Regions from separate parts of the Homo sapiens genome. Here regions 2 and 3 are each linked to region 1. The links come from fine-mapping of genetic effects on gene expression. A gene starts in region 1. Each other region holds a variant in brackets. All regions are shown on one strand. Distances are from middle to middle.

Evidence for each region. PIP is the estimated chance that this variant, and not a neighbour inherited with it, causes the effect. A credible set is the group of variants that fine-mapping cannot tell apart.
Region 2: its variant is the best candidate, but not a certain one, in a credible set for the expression of ZNF460-AS1 in fibroblasts (GTEx, PIP 0.68).
Region 3: its variant is the best candidate, but not a certain one, in a credible set for the expression of ZNF460-AS1 in blood mononuclear cells (TOPMed, PIP 0.65).

The regions. Positions count from the first base shown.
Region 1 is chr19:57,278,648-57,282,836 of GRCh38, reverse strand. It overlaps ZNF460-AS1 (ZNF460 antisense RNA 1), which reads left to right and starts at 2,503. Exons shown (of 3, transcript NR_136529.1): 1 at 2,503-2,558. It overlaps ZNF460 (zinc finger protein 460), which reads right to left and starts at 2,352. Exons shown (of 3, transcript NM_006635.4): 1 at 2,001-2,352. The coding sequence starts at 2,030. RefSeq lists enhancers at 871-990, 1,919-2,510, 1,894-3,093, 2,511-3,102, 2,217-3,156 and a silencer at 1,447-1,496.
Region 2 is chr19:57,313,676-57,317,864 of GRCh38, reverse strand. It overlaps the pseudogene LOC100288211. Among named protein-coding and RNA genes, the nearest start is that of ZNF543, 4.7 kb to the left of the region's middle. RefSeq lists a silencer at 90-384. The variant T/C (reference allele first, on the strand shown) is at 1,725.
Region 3 is chr19:57,242,893-57,247,081 of GRCh38, reverse strand. It overlaps ZNF805 (zinc finger protein 805), which reads right to left. Exons shown (of 4, transcript NM_001023563.4): 2 at 3,033-3,159. Among named protein-coding and RNA genes, the nearest start is that of ZNF805, 4.4 kb to the right of the region's middle. RefSeq lists an enhancer at 747-1,041. The variant C/T (reference allele first, on the strand shown) is at 2,379.

The sequences.
Region 1 (4,189 bases):
TGTACTTTTTGTAGAGACAGGGTTTTCCCATGTTGCCCAGGCTGGTCTTGAACTCCTGGGCTCAAGCAGTCCACCTACCTCAGCCTCCCAAAGTGCAGGGTTTACAGGTGTGAGCCACCAAGCCCAGCCCAAAGTCACAGGTCTTATCAACAGAGGCAGGATTTAAGCCCAGGGCCCTCTGGTCTGATTATGTAACCTGACATTTCTCTATTAGCAAAGTTAATGCAGTTAATGAGAATGAAGCATTTCAAATCCACATATACATTTCAGCCACTCCCATGGACAAGGGCAGAGAAGTGTAGTCATCATCATCCACCTCACCAAAGAATCACCTGACGTGGTGACACCTGATCAGGTGTTAGGGCCTGGACCTGCTTCCAGGGAGAATTCACAATGAGCCATCGCTTCCTTTTCTACCTAAGTCCTACTAGCAGGCATCCCTGAGGCCAGAAGATTCCATGAGCAAGCAACAAGAGTCATAGAGGGCACAGCAGGTTGTAGCCAAGACAATATGGGCCCATCTGGAGATTACATCTATCCTGGCTGAGTAGGAGGGTACATTCAGCAACATAACCATACAAACGTGCCCTCTCAGAATATGTCAGCAGGTAAGGGAGTAAGGGGAACCACATATAAAACCACCGTGGAAGCCACACAGGTCCCCTGAGAACTCCTTAAACAACCAATATACCATTTTTTAAGTCTACACAGTTCCACCAGTATGAAAGGCCATGACTCCTCATGCCCAAGATCACTGGCTAGAAGGAGGCCTCATCTTGCAAAGGTTACTTTAGGTCTCACCCCCAGGCCTCCCTAACCACTGCGGGTAAAGAAGAGGGTAAAAACACAGGCTATGATGTTAGACACACCAGTTGTTAGTTTCTGACTTAAGAAACTTAAGAGCTACAGTGATGTAAGGCAGGTAATTGGACGTATGTGACCCTCAAATTGCTCTTGTGTAAAACAATGATGACAACAGAACCTAATTCTAAAGAGTAATCCCAGCACTTTGGGAGACCCAGATGGGTGGATCACCTGAGGTCAGGAGTTCAAGACCAGCGTGGCCAACACGGTAAAACCCCGTCTCTACTAAAAATACAAAAATTAGCCAGGCGTGGTGGCGCACACCTGTAGTCCCAGCTACTCAGGAGGCTGAGGCAGGAGAATCGCTTGAACCCAAAAGGCGGAGGTTGCAGTGAGCCGAGGTCACGCCACTGCACTCCAGCCTGGGCGACAGAACAAGACTCCGTCTCAAAAAAAAAAAAAAAAAAAAAAAAAAATTTCAGGGTTAAACGAACTGAGGGTTAAATAATACTCACCGATCAGCCCACAGCAAGGACTCAATGACAGTTAATATCATTCTTTGCAATTATTTTTCTTTGTTCCCATTACATCCTTGACAAACTCAAATCCACAAGCTTCTTTAATACCATCAGATTATCTACACAAAAATACCAGACTCTGGGCAAGGGTGTAAGGTGCCACTTTAGCCGGAATTGCCAAAAAAGGCACCTCCAAATAGGTGACACCTGGACAGATGCCAAAAGGATGTGAAAGGGAGGCCCTGCAAAGTTACAGGGGCAGTGTTCGAAGTAAAAGGAAGTGCAAGGAGAAAGCCTGGAAAATGGAAGAGGACTGCACGGTCAGGTTGGTGGCTCTGAAGAGCAAAGGACCAGGGAAAAATGCAAACAGACAAGGTCAGGGGTGGTTGGCCAGGTGGATGGGGTACGGGCTGGCAGGCAACAGAGAAGGTTGGATTTAGGGGAAGTGTGATGAGATCCCTAGAAGGAAGCATCACTCCTTCAACCACGGACTGAACACCTATCAGAGGCCAACACTGTTGCAGGACTGCGGATAAAGGAAATGACAAGCCACGGCCATTTCTCTTAAATAAACGATGGCGACAAAGAAAAATCCTGTGGCTGTCTTGGCTTCCAGCCTGCCCACGAGGCCTCTAGAAATAGCACAGCAGCAGCAAGGCCGAAACCTCGTCCACTCACCTGCGCCGGAGCCATCCACGCCGCCGCCATCCCGGGAATGCCGCGGATCAGCCGACCACAGCCCTTCTCTGTCCTGGGCGGGGCGACCTCGGCTGACTTTCGCACTCCGAGCCTCAGTTTTCCCCCGAAAAAAATGCGCACAAGGCCCAAGGCGCAGCGTCGGGGCTGAGGAGACGGAGGGCGGCTGCGGAGGCCTAGGCCTCGGCGGGCGCCGGTGGGACACCTCGTTAGGGGAGAAGCGGGGCGTCAGGCTCCCGCCAAGACGCGAAGAAGGGGCGTAACCGCTTCACTACCCGTCCCTGCTCAGGCCGCAGAACGCGCCCACCCAGCGCTCTAGGCCCCACACTGTTTCAGGGCCAAACCGGCCCACGGAGATGACGTCACACGAAGAAGCGGAAGTCCCGCCTCCGCCGCCCTGGCCCGCAGAAAACTCTCCTGTCCTGGGTCGTCAATGGCCCAGAGTCCGCGGCCGACGCAAGGGGCAGTGCCTTCTGGGTAATGCAGTTTTTCCCTTACATCTACCGGGTGTGGGAACTCACCCAGCGCATCCGACTGCACGTAAGTGCGCACCAGAACCCCCGCGTCGTCTTAGGGCCACCGCCTTAGTATAGGCACAAGTCGGAGGGTCGAAAGGTCCCTTCTAGCTCAGGAAAATCGAGGTCAGGAGGCGGGGATATTCGCCCCGATTCAGACCCCGAACAAAGGTGCTTACCCTGCTGTGGGCTGGGCCCGCGACTTCTCGCTTGCTTTGCCTCTTTTCTGGATCTTTTCATAGAAGAAAAGGATAAATGAGCAGTTAAAATAGCCACCCAAAGGAGGACGCCTGACAGTGTGCCCAGCCTGCTGGGAAAGGACAGACCGCCCTCTATTGGGCCTCCTTTGGCCGGGCCCAGCCTTCGTAGGATGCAGGGACTTCCGGGTGATGTAATAGGCTTCGCGTTCGCCACGTGTGGACTTCCCGTACCCTGAGGTGGGGAGGCTGCTAGTGGAGCAGGCTTGCCGGGAAGCCCAGTACTCCCATTTCAAGCATGATCAGTTTGAAACGTCAGTAAGACCACAAAGCGTAGTGCCATATACTCAACCTATGATTCAACATTGGCAGAGGGTTCGAGCGTGGATATATAAATTTGGGAGTTATTACTGTAAACTGTTACTTCAAGTCATGATATTGGGTGAGGCTATGAAAAGAATGAGCGTAGATGGATAAGTGACGGGAAAGAGGGGAACCCTGGCCCAACCCAGCATTAACTGGTTGCAGACAGGAGAGTTTATAAAGTCTTGTTAGGAATTTTAACAATCCTAGACTATGCAAAGATTATATTATGCGAAGTCTTAGGAGTCCCCATCAGTAACTTTTTTTTTTTCTTTTCATGACTATGAAAGTGAGAGAATAAAGTCCAGCTTTCAATGGTTTGACGATATATATGGTTAAGGAAATAGAAAGGTGTGCAGAAAGTACTCTCCAAGAGATTTAATTTTGAGATTGAAAATAGTCAAGGAATGGAGATGGAGTCAATTTCCTACACGATGCGGTACTTTTGGAGAAATATTTTTGGCTAAATTAGTGTGCAAGGAACACTGTTATTCATCACTGGCAATAGTAATTTTTGAAAATTGATAAAGACATCATTCTCTTTTTCACATATTTGTGACTCTTAAATTTTTTTTTTTTTTTTTTTTTTTTGAGATGGAGTTTCACTCTTGTTGCCCAGGCTGGAGAGCAGTGGCACAGTCTCCACTCACTGCAACCTCCGCCTCCCGGGTTCAAGCGATTCTCCTGCCTCAGCCTCCTGAGTAGCTGGGATTACAGGTGTGCGCCACCACGCCTGGCTAATTTTATATTTTTAGTAGAGACAGGGTTCTTCCATGTTGTTCAGGCTGGTCTCAAACTCCCGACCTCAGGTGATCCACCCACCTCGGCCTCCCAAAGTGCTAGGATTACAGACGTGAGCCACCCCCTCTGGCCAGACTCTTATAATTAAATTTAAATGGTTTTTTCAGAGGCATATGAACCAGAGCAACTCTATCTTAAATAGGAGCTGGGTAAAATGAAGCTAAAACCTACTAGGCTGCATTCCCAGACAGTTAAGGCATTCTGAGTCACAGGATGAGATAGGAGGTCAGCACAAAATACGGATCATAAAGACCTTGCTGATAAAACAGGTTGCAGTAAAGGAGCTGGCCAAAAC
Region 2 (4,189 bases), 35 kb before region 1:
GAATAGACCAAGCTTAGAAAATAGTCTCAGAGCTCAGTTTTTCCCCATGTGTCTGCCGCCTAGGGGAGGTGCCTCATCCGGAGCGGGCCGCCAGCTGTCCGGCCCTGTCCGCACAGAGGCTCCTGTCGTTGGCGCCCGGGAGTGGCTTGGCTGCCCGATGCTTCTGCCCCGGCTGCCACGGGCAGGGCTGTACGCTTAGTGCCCGGCTCAGGCCCCTTGAAGCGCCCGCGGGGGTGGGAGCGGCCTCCGGCCCCGCGGAGACCGAGCGGCTTGAGGACTAGGCGGCGGCCGCGGGGAGGAGGATGGGGGCTAACCAGTTAGTGGTGCTCAACGTGTGTGACATGTATTGGATGAAGGAATATACCTCATCCATTGGAATTGGAGTTTTTCATTCAGAAATTGAAGTCTATGGCAGAGAATTTGCTTATGGTGGCCATCCTTACCCCTTTTCTGGAATATTTGAAATTTCCCCAGGAAATGCTTCTGAACTAGGAGAACCATTTAAATTTAAAGAAGTTGTTTTAGGGAGCACGGACTTCCTAGAAGATGATATAGAAAAAATTGTAGAAGAACTGGGAAAAGAATACAAAGGCAATGTTTATCATTTAATGCATAAAAACTGCAATCATTTTTCTTCAGCTTTATCAGAGGTAAACTAAATTTTATCCTAAAAGTTCTTCAAATAAGTGTTTGCTATCCCACAAAAAAAAAGAAAATAATCTCAGAGCTCAAACACGACTCCTTTGAACCAATACAGCAGAAAAAAATAAAGAAAAAAGAATTTTAAAAAATGAATAAAACCTACAAGAAATATGGGATATGTAAAAAGACCAAGCCTATAACACATTGGCATTCCAGAAAGAGATGGAGAGACAACAAGGAACTTGGAAAACATATTTGATGATACTGTCCATGAACATTTCCCCAACCACACTAGAGAGGTTGACATGCAAATTCAGGACATTCAGAGAACCCCTGTGAGATGATATTATACAAGATGACCATCCCTAAGACACATAGTCATCAGATTCTCCAAGGTCAATACAAAAGAAAAACATTAAAGGCAGCTAGAGAGAAGTGGCAGGTTACCCACAAAAGGAACCCGATCAGGCTAACCGTGGACCTTTCAGAAAGTTTACAAGCTGGAAGAGACTGGGGGCCTATATTCAGCATTTTTAAATGAAAGAAATTTGAACCAAGAATTTAATATCCAACCAAACTAAACTTCATTAAGTGAAGGATAAATAAAATCTTTTTCAGACAAACAAATGTTAAGGGAATTCATTACTACCAGACCTGCCTTACAAGAAGTCCTTAAAACAGTGCTAAACCTAGAAGCAAAAGATGAGTATCTGCCACCACAGAAACAACTTGAGCACATATCCTGTTGATACTACAAACCAACTATACAATAAAGTCCACATAACAACCAGCTAACAACATAATGACAGGATCAAATCCTCACTTATCAATATTGACCTTGAATGTAAATAGGCTAAATGCCCCACTTAGAAGGCACAAGGTGGCAAGTTGGAAAAAGAAATGAAACCCAACTGTGTATTCTCTTCATTAGACACATCTCACATGCAATGACACCCATAGGCACAAAGTAAAAGGATGGAGAAAGATCAAGCAAATGGGAAAAAAAAGAGCAGGGATTGCTATTTCACACGAAACAGACTTTAGACCAACAATGATCAAAAAAGGCAAAGAAGGGCATCACA[T/C]AGTGATAAAGGATTCAATTCAACAAGACTTAACTATCCCAAATATATATGCACCAAACACTGGAGCACCCATATTCATGAAACAAGTTCTTAGAGACCTACAACAAGACTTAGACAACCAGACAATAATAGCAGGAGACTTCAACACCCCACTGACAGTGTTAGATGCATCACCAAGGCAGAAAGCTAACAAAGGTATTTGGAAGCTAAACTGGACATTTGACCAAATAGACCTTACAGAAATCTACAGAATACTCTACCCAACAACCACAGAACATACATTCTTTTCATCTGCACATGTCACATATTCTAAGATCAATCACATACTTGGCCATAAAGCAATACTCAACAATTAAAAAAAAAGTCATACCAACCACACTCTCAGACCATAGCACAGTAGAAACAGAAATCAATACCTAGAAGAACTCTCAAAACCATACAATTACATGGAAATTAAACAATCTTCTCCTGAATGTGTTTTAGGTAAAGAATGAAATCAAGACAAATAAAAAAATTCCTTGAAACTAATTAAAACAGAGATACAACATACCAGAATCTTTGGGACACAGCTAAAGCAGTGTTGAAAGTTTATAGTGCAAAATGCCTACACCAAGAAGTTAGATAAATCTCAAGTTAACAAAATAACATCACACCTAGAGGAACTAAAAGAAAAAAAAAACAACCCCAAAAGAAAGAAAAGCAGCAGAGAAAAATAACCAATATCAGAGTTGAACTGAATAAAACTGAGATGTGAAAATCTACACAAAGATCATAAAACCGTAAGTTGGTTTTTCAAAAGAATAAACAACACTGGTAGCCCACTAGCTAGATTAATAAGGAAAAAAGAAGATGCAAAAAAACGCAATCAGAAATGTTAAAGGTGACATTACCACCTACCCCACAGAAGTACAAAATTCTCTCAGAGACTATTAAGAACTAAAAACTTAGCACACAAACTAAAAAACCTAGAAGAAATGGATACATTCCTTGAAACATACAACCTCCTAAGATTGAACCAGGAAGAAATTGAAATCCTGAACAGACCAGTAATGAGTTCTGAAATTGAATCAGTAATTAAAAAGCTACCAACCAGAAAAAGCCCTGGACCAGGTGGATTCACAGTTGTATTCTACCAGATGTAAAAAGACGTGGTACTAATCCTACTGAAATTATTCCCAAAAAATCAAGGAGGCGGGACTACTCCCTAACTTATTCTGTGAGGCCAGAGTCATCCTGATACCAAAACCTGGCAGAGGCAAAATGAAAAAAGAAAATGTTAGGCCAATATCCCTGATAAACATAAATGCAAAATTCTCAACAAAATACTAGTTAACTGAATCCAACAGCATATCAGAAAGCTAATCCACCACGATCACCACACTCAAGCAGGCTTTATATCTGGCATGCAAAGTTGGCTCAACATATGCAAATTAAGAAATGTGATTCATCACATAAACAGAACAAAAAAACAAAAACCACATGGTTATCTCAATAGATGCACAGAAGGCTTTCAATAAAATTTAACAACCCTTCCAACCCTCCACAAACTAGGCATTGAAGAAACAGACCTCAAAATAATAAGAGCCATCTATGGGCCAGGTGCAGTGTCTCACACCTATAATCCCAGCACTTTGGGAGGTGGAGACAAGCCTGGGCAACATAGCAAAACCCCGTTCCTACAAAATACACAAAAATTAGCCAGGTGTGATGGCATACACCTGTAGTCTCAGCTGCTCGAGAGGCTGAGGTGGGAGGCACTTGAGCTCAGGAGGGCAGAGGTTGCAGTGAGCTGTGATTGCATCACTGCACTCCAGCCTGGGTGACAGAGCAAGAACCTTGTCTCAAAGCAACAACAAAAGCCATCTATAACAAACTCACAGCTAAAATTATACCAGACAGGCAAAAGCCGGAAGCATTTTCCTTGGGAATCAGAACAAGACAACGATACTCACTCTTACCACTCCTATTCAAGATAGTACTGGAAGTCCTAGCCAGAGTAATCAGGCAAGAGAATGAAATAAAAGGCATCCAAATAGGAAGAGAGGAAGTCAAACTATCTCTCTTTGCAGAGGATATGATTCTATACTTAGAAAACCCCATAGTCTCTGCACAAAAGCTCCTAGAACTGATAACTTCAGTAAAGCTTTAGTATATAAAATCAATGTACAAAAATCAGCATTTCTATGTACCAATAATATACAGTGAATGTCCAGTCTGAGAGCCAAATCAAGAATGCAATCTCATACACAATAGTCAAGAAAAAGAATAAAATACCTAGTAATAAAGCTAGCCAGGGAGTGGAAAGATCTCTACAACAAGAATTACAAAACACTGCTGAAAGAAATCAGAGATGACCAAAACAAATGGAAAAACATTTCATGCTCATGGATAAAAAGAATCAATATTGTTAAAATAGCCATACTGCCCAAAGCAATTTATGGATTCAGTGCTATTTCATCAATCTG
Region 3 (4,189 bases), 36 kb after region 1:
CCAGTCTGGGAGACAAGAGTGAAACTCCATCTCAAAAAAAAAAAAAAAAGTTCACAAGAGAAGAATTTTTTCTACACAAAAACATTCAGTGATAGCTTCATAAAATGAAGGTGTTTCATCTGTGCTGAGTAAGTTAAACTGGATGAGGGACTCACAGGAGTGGCTAAATTTTCCTTACTTTGCTGAGGACAGGGATCCTGTGAGAATAAATGGAGCATGAACACTGCCTGGAACAGGCCTGAGACACCCAATCAGTGCTCTGGGGATCTGGACTGTTAACTGCTTTTCTTTTTTTTTTTTTTTTTTTGAGACGAAGTCTCGCTCTGTCATCAGGCTGGAGTGCAGTAGCGCGATCTCAGCTCACTGCAACCTCCAACTCCCTGGTTCAAGTGATTCTCCTGCCTCCACCTCCTGAGTAGCTGGGATTACAGGCATGCGCTACCACACCCAGCTAATTTTTGTATATTTAGTACAGACGGGGTTTCACCATGTTGGCCAGGATGGTCGCTATCAACTGACCTCGTGATCTGCCTGCCTTGCCCTCCCAAAGTGCTGAGATTGCAGGCATGAGCCACCATGCCCGGGCTGCTTTTCTTAAAAGTGATCCACTTTTTATTTTTCTTAGATTTCTTCAAAAATGGAATCCTTATCACTCTGGTAAATGGAAAATCCAGAGTCACTTGTCTTGATGGCAGGTAACCATGAAAATGTAGCAATAAATCAAAACAACGTATACAAAAATTAGCTGGGCGTGGTGGCACCTGCCTGTAATCCTAGCTACTCAGGAGGCTGAGGCATGAGAAATGCTTGAATCCAGGAGGCACAGGTTGCAGTGAGCCAAGATCAAACCACTGCACTCCAGCCGAGGCAACAGCGAGACTCTGTCTCAAGACAAACAAACAGTGCTCTTTGGTCCCTGTGAGCTCATGCTGCTTGTTCAGGGCTGTGAGCCTAAGGCTGCTCCCTCTGTAGAAAAGGGGAAATTACCAACAGTTTGCAGGACGTTAAGTCTCAGCACTAAACCAGAGTTTTCCTCAAATGCTAAGGAGACAAGACGAGAAGAAATAAAAGAACAACTTCCTCAAGTGTCTCTCAGCACCAGCTGATGTAGTGTCTGTCCAAGCACTCTCTGAAAAAGAGCTTCTCGCCTTAGCACAATTGACATTTAGGTCCAGGTAATTCTTTGTTTGTGAGATCGGGGGAAGAGGAGGAGAAAGGATCTGTCCTGTGCATTATAAGGATGTTTAGCAGCATCTCCACCCACTAGCTGTCAATGTTATCATCTTAGGTTTTTTTTTTTTTTGAGATGGAGTCTCGCTCTGTCGCCCAGGCTGGAGTGCAGTGGTGCAATCTCAGCTCACTGCAAGCTCCGCCTCCTGGGTTCACGCCATTCTCCTGCCTCAGCCTCCCGAGTAGCTGGGACTACAGGCACCCGCCACCACGCCCGGCTAATTTTTTGTATTTTTAGTAGAGACAGGGTTGCACCGTGTTAGCCAGGATGGTCTCTATCTCCTGACCTTGTGATCCGCCCATCTCGGCCTCCCAAAGTGCTGGGATTACAGGCATGAGCTATCGCACCTGGCCCATCATCTTAGTTTTAACAACCAAAATGTCTCCACACATTGCCCAGTGTCCACTGAAGCTCAACATCGTCCCTGTTTGAGAAACACTAGCTTAGAAAGACATTAAAAAGGTAAAGGGAGGAGGCTATGGTGAGAAAGGGGCCTCCCCAAGATTCGGTGGTCAGGGAAGGGCTGGGTGAGGAGGCAAGTGGTGCTGAGAAGGGGCGGCCATGTGAAATGCTGAATTACCCTGAGAACACTCATCAAAGAGAACAGCAAATGCAATGGCCTGAGGTGGGTGGGCACTTGGGGAAATAGCAAGAAGCCCAGCAAGGCTGCAGCAGAGTGACTTTAGAATCAGAGGATGTGAAGGTGATTGAAGGACGTGAAGGTTGTTTAGAATAACACCTGGTGGGACGGAAGGTCAATGTCTCCTTGGGGCCTGCCTGACTCAACCCTTCTTAGTGAACATCCCACCAACCCTTACACCACAGACTGGGCTGTGGAGCAGATACATGAGCAACCAGGCCCACCCAGGCAGATCCCGCTCTGGAACTCAAAAAAAAAACTGCAGACAGAGGCCAGTCTATGCTGGGCAGTGGGTGAGAGATGGAGGCAAGTATGAGCTGGAGGTGGAGCAGCATTTGCTGCCTCAAACACGCCCCACAGAGGCCAGAGAAACAGACAAGAAATCTGGAGGGGAAGGAGGGGTCACAAACAGTAAAACCTGGGGTGGTTACTCTTCCCCTGAACTCGCTGAGGCAGAAAAAACCATACAGAGTAGACAGTGACATGAGCAGACCCAGACAGAGAAAC[C/T]AGGACCCCATCGTGGCGGTTCTCAGTTCCTACTTCAACCCCTCATAACATACAGCTGGCAATCCTACCTTTGAGGTCTGCAAAACACCCCATTTCCTTCCACCAGCTTCTCTCCTTTGGCTGAGAGCCAAAGAGTACTCTTATTTCTTGTCCAAAGCGATGCATGGAGACTGTATAGGAAGAGGTGAGTGTAGGCCAGGCGTGGTGGCTCACACCTGTAATCCCAGCACTTTGGGAGACCGAGGCGGGCGGATCACCTGAGGTCAGGAGTTTGAGACCAGCCTGGCCAGCATGGTGAAACCCCATCTCTACTGAAAATACAAAAATTAGCCAGGCATGGTGGTGGGCACCTGTAATCCCAGCTTCCCAGCTACTTGGGAGGCTGAGGCAGAAGAATCGCTTGAACCTGGGAGGCGGAGGTTGCAGTGACCCGAGTTCGTGCTAATGCATCCAGCCTGGGTGACAGAGTAAGACTCCCTCTCAAAAAAAAAAAAAAAAAAAAAAGGAAGAGGTGAGTGTTGTAGAAAATGACTGAATTTGTGGGAAGGAGGCAAGGCCAGTAAGAGAGGACTTCTTGACCCATCAGGCCTGGAGTCAGAGGGTGGAACGAAGGAGGTGGCAGATCCCCTGCATGGTGGAGGGGGAAGGCCTTACCCAGAGATACCAGGAGCCCACAGTTTTCCAGCATCACCTCCTGGTACAGGGTCCGCTGAGCTAGGTCCAGCTGGCCCCACTCCTCCTGGGTGAAAGTCACAGCCACATCATCAAAGGTCACAGACACCTGAAATGTCAAATAGAGGTAGTAGAGTTTGCTGTGGGACTATTGCATGTGCTTTGCTGGAAAAGGTGCAACAAGATCAAGGCCCAAGTCACTGAGGGCCTCCTGAGGGCCTAACTTTGTACCAGGCTGAAGGAGGAAGGCAGACATTGCTTTGGACAGATTACTGTAATGTAAAAGAGAAAAGCCTCCTATATAGGAGCCATCAAAGAATAACAGAAGACAATGGCAATAACTCGTGGATGGCGAGATGTAGACAATTAGAGTTCGAGGACCTCAAAGAAATGAGGAAATAGTGACAATAATAATAGCAATAATGTTGACAACCACAGTGCCTGAGCCTCACTGGTCCAGCTCATGCTGAAGCTTCATGTTCTGTTTTAAAGCAACTACAAGTCCCAAACTCTGAAGTCAGACTTCTCAAGTTTGAATCCAAACTCCTGAAACTGACACTTGCCAGTTTTGTGACCTCAGGGACCTCATTTATCTCTGCCTCAATTTTCAGATGAATACAGAATTCCCATTTTCCCAATAACAGACATGAGTTATTCAGAGCTTACTGGACTTTGGGATTTTATTAATCCTCCCACAGCCCCTGAAGTATTACTAAACACCACCGCCAATCACCTCCATGTCACAGTCACTGACCTGAGGCTAAGGGAGCTCCACAGATTCTCCTAGTCTTTTGTGTTTTCTGTTTGTTTGTTTCAGAGACAGGGTCTCACTCTATTACCCAGACTGGAGTGTAATGGCATGCTCAGAGTTCACTGTAACCTTGAACTCCTGGGCTCAAGCAATCCTTCTGCCTTAGCCGCCCAAGTAGCTGGGACTACAGGAACGCACCACTGCGCCCAACTATTTCTTTTTGGTAGAGCTGGGATCTTGCTATGTTGCCCAGGCTGGTCTCGAACTCCTAGCCTCAAGTGATCCTCTCACCTCAGCCTCCCACAGCACTGGGGCTACAGGTGTGAGCACCAAGTTCAGCCAGAGTTTTACATGTTATAAGCATGATTTATATATAAGAGACAGGATT